2 separate regions of the Homo sapiens genome follow, and region 1 is linked to region 2. The links come from fine-mapping of genetic effects on gene expression. Tissue or cell type: whole blood. Region 2 holds a variant in brackets; the other region holds the start of a gene. All regions are shown on one strand. Distances are from middle to middle.

Region 1 (2,687 bases), 78 kb after region 2:
TGACAACAGCTCCTATGTCATTGGATTGCTATGAAGAGTTAGAGCTATTTGTCCAGGCAGAAGGTAAAGGTTTTGCCTCTCCTCATGCACAGGTGTCAAAGCCACCTTCATTGGGATATTCCCAGTGCATTAGGCAGTTTCTCTGGGAAATCCCCAATTCCTCTCTTGTGTAATACTTGTTTCTTATTAAATACCCGGATGAGTTGTCATCTGGGTCCCTTCTTAAAGACAGAGCTCCAATGACTCCACCTACCTATGCTTACCTGTTTGAAGCAGAAATTTTATCCTCTTCCTGGATTGTTGGTACTGAAAGGCTCAAAGTTGGCTCTCTGGACATACATACGATATCAAATCTCACAAATGCAGTATCAGGAGAAAGAAATATACAAGCGAGACTGTTGCAGGAACTTCCTCATTCTCTGTCTTTTGAAAAAGTCCCTCTCCCTTACAGTAGGGTAAGCTTTCTGTTTATCTTACCAGAAACACAGTCCTTTTACTGTCCCTGGGTCAGTGCTAGAAACTCTTGAACAGCGCATTTATTCATAAACCAGAGCAACATCAAGGAAGCCAGGCAACATCACCTCTATATCCCAATTCTGTCCCTCTTCTCAAAGAATGTCCAACATTTGATTTTTTTCCCTATTTTCTCAACCAACTTGTTTTCACATCTAGAAAAATAATGCCTGCTTTTCCAATGGAATTAGCCCCAGACAAGAAGATACTTAACAGATACAAATGAATAAAGTGGAAAAAAATAAATGGTTGAGGTGGCAGAGGGCAACAAGGCACTGAAGATAGTCATTAATCAAAGCATGCAGGTGGGAGTGCGGAGTCAATGTCCACCCACTAGGTACTTTGAAAGGAGATCTGCTGCCTTACCCCAAGTCCTGGAGCAGCTCAGCCTCTCCATCGGATCTGCTCCACAGATCTGAGGGATCCTGGGTGCTCATCTTCCCTTCTAGAAGTTCTGCTCTGCCCATTCGCGCCCTTCACAGAGGTAGAGAGAGAGACACAACTGGGCTGCTCCTGACACCTTCTCGCTCTGTGAGACAGCAGCCTGCTATGGCTCTGAGTCTCCAAGGCAAGGAAGTGAAACTTGGTTACTTACTCCTCCCACCAACACCACCACCCTGGCCTGGAGGCACTGGCAGGAGTGTTCTGTCAGTCAGGAAGTATGCAAACTTAGGTAGCTACCTCTGAGGACACCCACACTACATCACGCAACAGGCGGTTGCTATCAAAGGAAATGAAGAGGCAACCACCCCACCTGGGATTGGACAACAGTGCAAACTGCTTGTGTGAGGCCAAACCCTAGCTTCTCCCTAATGCTATCAGCCTCTGGTTTGTAGTGGAGGATGCGTGCACTCTTTTACCCCATCTTCTTTCTGTCTTACACACCAACACAGGGAACACTGAGGAAGCTTCTCTATCAGGAACACCTTTAGAGTGGATAGAAAAAGCAGAAGCAAACCACAAATTCGACCCTGAAGTTTGATGTTTTAGCACTTTTGCAATATTTCTGCTTGTTTACCCAGACCTTCTAATATATCCTCAATGCTCCGAATAGGGATGATTCAGAGACAATTATTGTTTCCTCCACAGAAAAAGAATTAGGAGAGGAGAAGGTAGGAAAAAGTTACAAGGGGCCATTCTGGTGCCCACCTAATGGGGCATATTAGAACTCCTGGAGTCTTTTTTTTTTTTTTTTTTTGAGACAGTCTCGCTCTGTCACTCAGTCTGGAGTGTAATGGCATGACCTGAGATCACTGCAACCTCCACCTCCCAGGGTTCAAGTGATTCTTCTGCCTCAGCCTCCCAAGTAGCTGGTATTACAGGCACCCGTCATCATGCTCTGCTAATTTTTGTGTTTTTATAGAGACAGGGTTTCACCCTCAGGTGATACACTCACCTCGGCCTCCCAAAGTGCTGGGCTTATAGGCATGAGCCACTGCACCTGGCCTGAACTCCTAGAGTCTTTGAGTGCCACTTCCTTCATGGGCTTACTCACACCTGCATGGCTTTGTGCCCAGATTCATATGTAGAGCAGGATTCTATCTGCCTGGAATGCTAAAGGTAAATTGCAGTGACTGAATCCTTGGGAAGTGGAACAAAGTGCAGTATCAAATGAGTCAAGGACATATGTTGCTTCCTGCCTTTTCTATGTACCTACAGGTCTCTCTCTCCCTCTCCCTTTCTCTCTCTCTCTTCCTATCTCTACTCCCTGACTCATTCAGCACTCACCACAGTGCTCTGTAACTTGTTCTCACAGTGTGGCCTGAGGACTAAACAGCACAGCAGAACTGTTCCTAAAGGACTAGATGATTGCAAAAGGCTGCTGTGCAATGGTTCTATCCTTCATCTTCCTCCCTATTACCACTGTTCACCCGGGATCGGTGAGACCCGGGTAACACTGGTTGCCAGTGGGAAGTTCCTGAGTGTCTGGAGGCAGTCTGCTGAAGACTAAGCTCTGATAATACATATATAACTGACTAAATGAGCACTTAAATTCTTTTGGCTACAGTTTGCTCACAGAGAAGGACAGGGCCCACTTGAACAGAGAGGCCAGTGCAGGCCAGGGAGATACTGAATATGCATACAGCAGTGACAGGGGAACAGCCTGGGCACTAGAGTTCCTGTTCCCTCTCTAGAGCCCTTTATTTGGTGTTTTAGTATCTATTTCATTCCCA
Region 2 (2,687 bases):
TTAAATGATGTGATTTGGGTCTTTAGAACATCATTTTTGTTGCTGTGTGGAGACTGGAGGGCAAAAGAGAATGTAAGAAGAATAGGAGGTTGTTGTCAAAAGAGAGATGATCATGGCTTGGAGTAGGGTAGGAATATAGATAGGTGAATAGTTTTCAAAGATAGGAGGTAGAATCAACAGAACTCTGATTAGATTTGTGACATATGGAAGCAGCAATTGAAAACCAGGCTAAAGTTTTCTGAAAATTTGGCTATGAAAGGGAGTAGAGGAAAAACAGTGTGGTAGCTGAAAGAGGATGCGATTTCTAAAGAAGCTTTTCTTTTGAGGGTCTCGCTCTGTCACACAAGCTGGAGTTCAGTGGGGCGATCACCACTCGATGCAGCCTCAAACCCTGGGCTCAAGGGATCCTCCTGCCTCAGCCTCCCGAGTACCTGGTGCACGCCACGTTCGGATAATTCTTAATTATTATTATTATTTGTAGAGATGGGGTCCTATCTTGCCAGGCTGCTGTGGAACTCCTGGGCTCAAAGGATCGTCCCGCCTCGGACTCCCAAAGTGCTGCGACTACAGGCGTCAGCCACCGCACCCGGAAAGCCTTTTATTTTTTTCAATTATTATTTATTACATGAGACCTTACTAATTTTTAAAAATTCTGATGTAAAAGGGAACATAGAAGGTGCCCGTAATCAGTGTCTGCATGTTAAAAGTAGACGCTTGAAGTGCTCCAGAAAACCCATGGCTCCTCCCCATTCAATCTAGGTAAGGCCTTCAGTAAAGAGCACCCATGGGGAAGTCACAAGAGCCTAGGAAACAGGTCAGAAACCTGTGGACCTGGTACTTCCAATCACAGGCAATCTGGTGCTTGCTCTTCAGCTCATCACACCATCCCCTCAAATTTCTTCATCTACAAGAAAAGGTTTTAAGATAACAGACCCTGCAAAACTAATGACATTTATACACCCTCTCTGCACAAGAATGTCTTGTAACACATAACCTTGCTTGCATTTTCTGGGTTCCTTAGGGTCCAGCGATCTCGTACAAATCTACCCCACAGCTGACTTCCTTCGGCCCGTGACA[C/G]AAGGCGCAGGCGCAAGACGCGGCCCGCGGTGGGCGGGGGAGGGGCGGGGCGCGTGCGGGGCGGGGGGGAGGGGAGGGGCGCGGCCGCCGGACGCGCCCTCGCAGCTTCCGCCGGGCCCCTCCGGAAATCCCGTATCGTAGGGCGACGGCGGCTTAGAAAGTGCTTCCTGGAGCGCAGACGAGGTCATGAATCATGTGACGGTGGCTTGAGGAGGAACCTGTCTTTAAAGCTGTCCCTGAAGTGACAGCGGAGAGAACCAGGCAGCCCAGAAACCCCAGGTAACTGGCGCTACTTTGCCTGGTTTTGAGGCCTAGTCCCGCAGGTGGCGCGGGTGGTGAGATTAAACAGAAGGAGAGGACCCTCTCTTCTTTTCTTTGGGCCTAGCTCTTTGGGGTGGAGGGGCAGGGATGGGGTGGGCTGAGGTAAGGTGTGCCAGCTGAGTACCTGTGGGGGTGCTGGGGCACTCCGACTCCCACTGGGCTCGCTGGGCCAAGCCCTAGAACCGCGGGGGTTTTACCTGGTTCTGACCAGGGCTGATCTCGCGTATTAAGTTGTGGGTGGGGAGGACGAGGAAGCCAAAGAGGGAAGAGTCACCGGGAGTTTCTCTTCCAGGCGTGGAGATTGATCCTGCGAGAGAAGGGGGTTCATCATGGCGGATGTGAGTGACACCCCTACATAAGAGGAAGGGGAGAGTGGGGAATTTTGAGGGGCATACTGAGCGGGGAGAGGTAGAACTTCCCAAACAGAAATTTGTTTTGATCCTCCCAGCCCCACCCATCCCAGTTAATTATTTTCTCTGATATCTGAAGTGGGAGACTAATATGAATGAATTTGCAGGATCCTGAGTTTCTGCCTCGAATGGGGGTGTAGGACACTAAGGTGCTTGAGACTGAGAAAATTAGGTTCTCCCTACTCCCCAGTCCAGCTGGGGCATAAGAGAGGCTCTGTATATTTACCATTTGAAATTCTGAATGATGGTTTGCTGCTTTTCCTGTCAGAATTTGGTCAGTAGGACATGTACCCACAATACTTTTTTCCAGTAAGTGATAACAATATCTCATTTGGTTTATTGTAGCAATTTACGATGATTTCTAACCCATGCCTCTTTAGAAACATGGTAACGTGTGTGTGTGTGTGTGTAGGAGGATAAAATGATCAGTCGGGTTTGGAGAATAGTAAGTGCTGGATGCTCAAAACAAGAGATACCTGATTAATCCATGTGAGGTCAAAATTGATACCTAAATTGTCAGTGAAATTCCTGGGATAAGAGAGTGTAATGAGACAAAATAAGATAGTCTTCTGGCCAATGCGGTTGCTTAGTCTGTAATCTCAGCACTTTGGGAGGCCGAGATGGAAGGATCACTTGAGGCCGGGAGTTCAAGATCAGCCTGGGCAACATAGCAAGACCCCGTTCTACAAAAAGAAATTTAAAAATCAGCCAGGCGCATTGATACCTCTGTAGTCACAGCTATGCTGGAAGTGAGGCGAGACGATTGCTTGAGCCCAGAAGTTGGAAGTTGCAGTGAGCCCCAGCTTAGAAAAATAAAATAGTCTTCTACTTCTTTAGTCTTAACTGTGTTTCGTGTTAAACACTTGACACACATTGTCA

The links. PIP is the estimated chance that this variant, and not a neighbour inherited with it, causes the effect.
Region 1: DAPP1 starts here. The variant in region 2 is fine-mapped to the expression of DAPP1 in whole blood (TOPMed, PIP 0.91).

Annotation. Positions count from the first base shown.
Region 1 is chr4:99,815,207-99,817,893 of GRCh38, reverse strand. It overlaps DAPP1 (dual adaptor of phosphotyrosine and 3-phosphoinositides 1), which reads right to left and starts at 1,067. Exons shown (of 9, transcript NM_014395.3): 1 at 880-1,067. The coding sequence starts at 980.
Region 2 is chr4:99,893,004-99,895,690 of GRCh38, reverse strand. LAMTOR3 (late endosomal/lysosomal adaptor, MAPK and MTOR activator 3) reads left to right here and starts at 1,264. Exons shown (of 7, transcript NM_021970.4): 1 at 1,264-1,356; 2 at 1,691-1,736. The coding sequence starts at 1,728. RefSeq lists a silencer at 1,076-1,165. The variant C/G (reference allele first, on the strand shown) is at 1,078.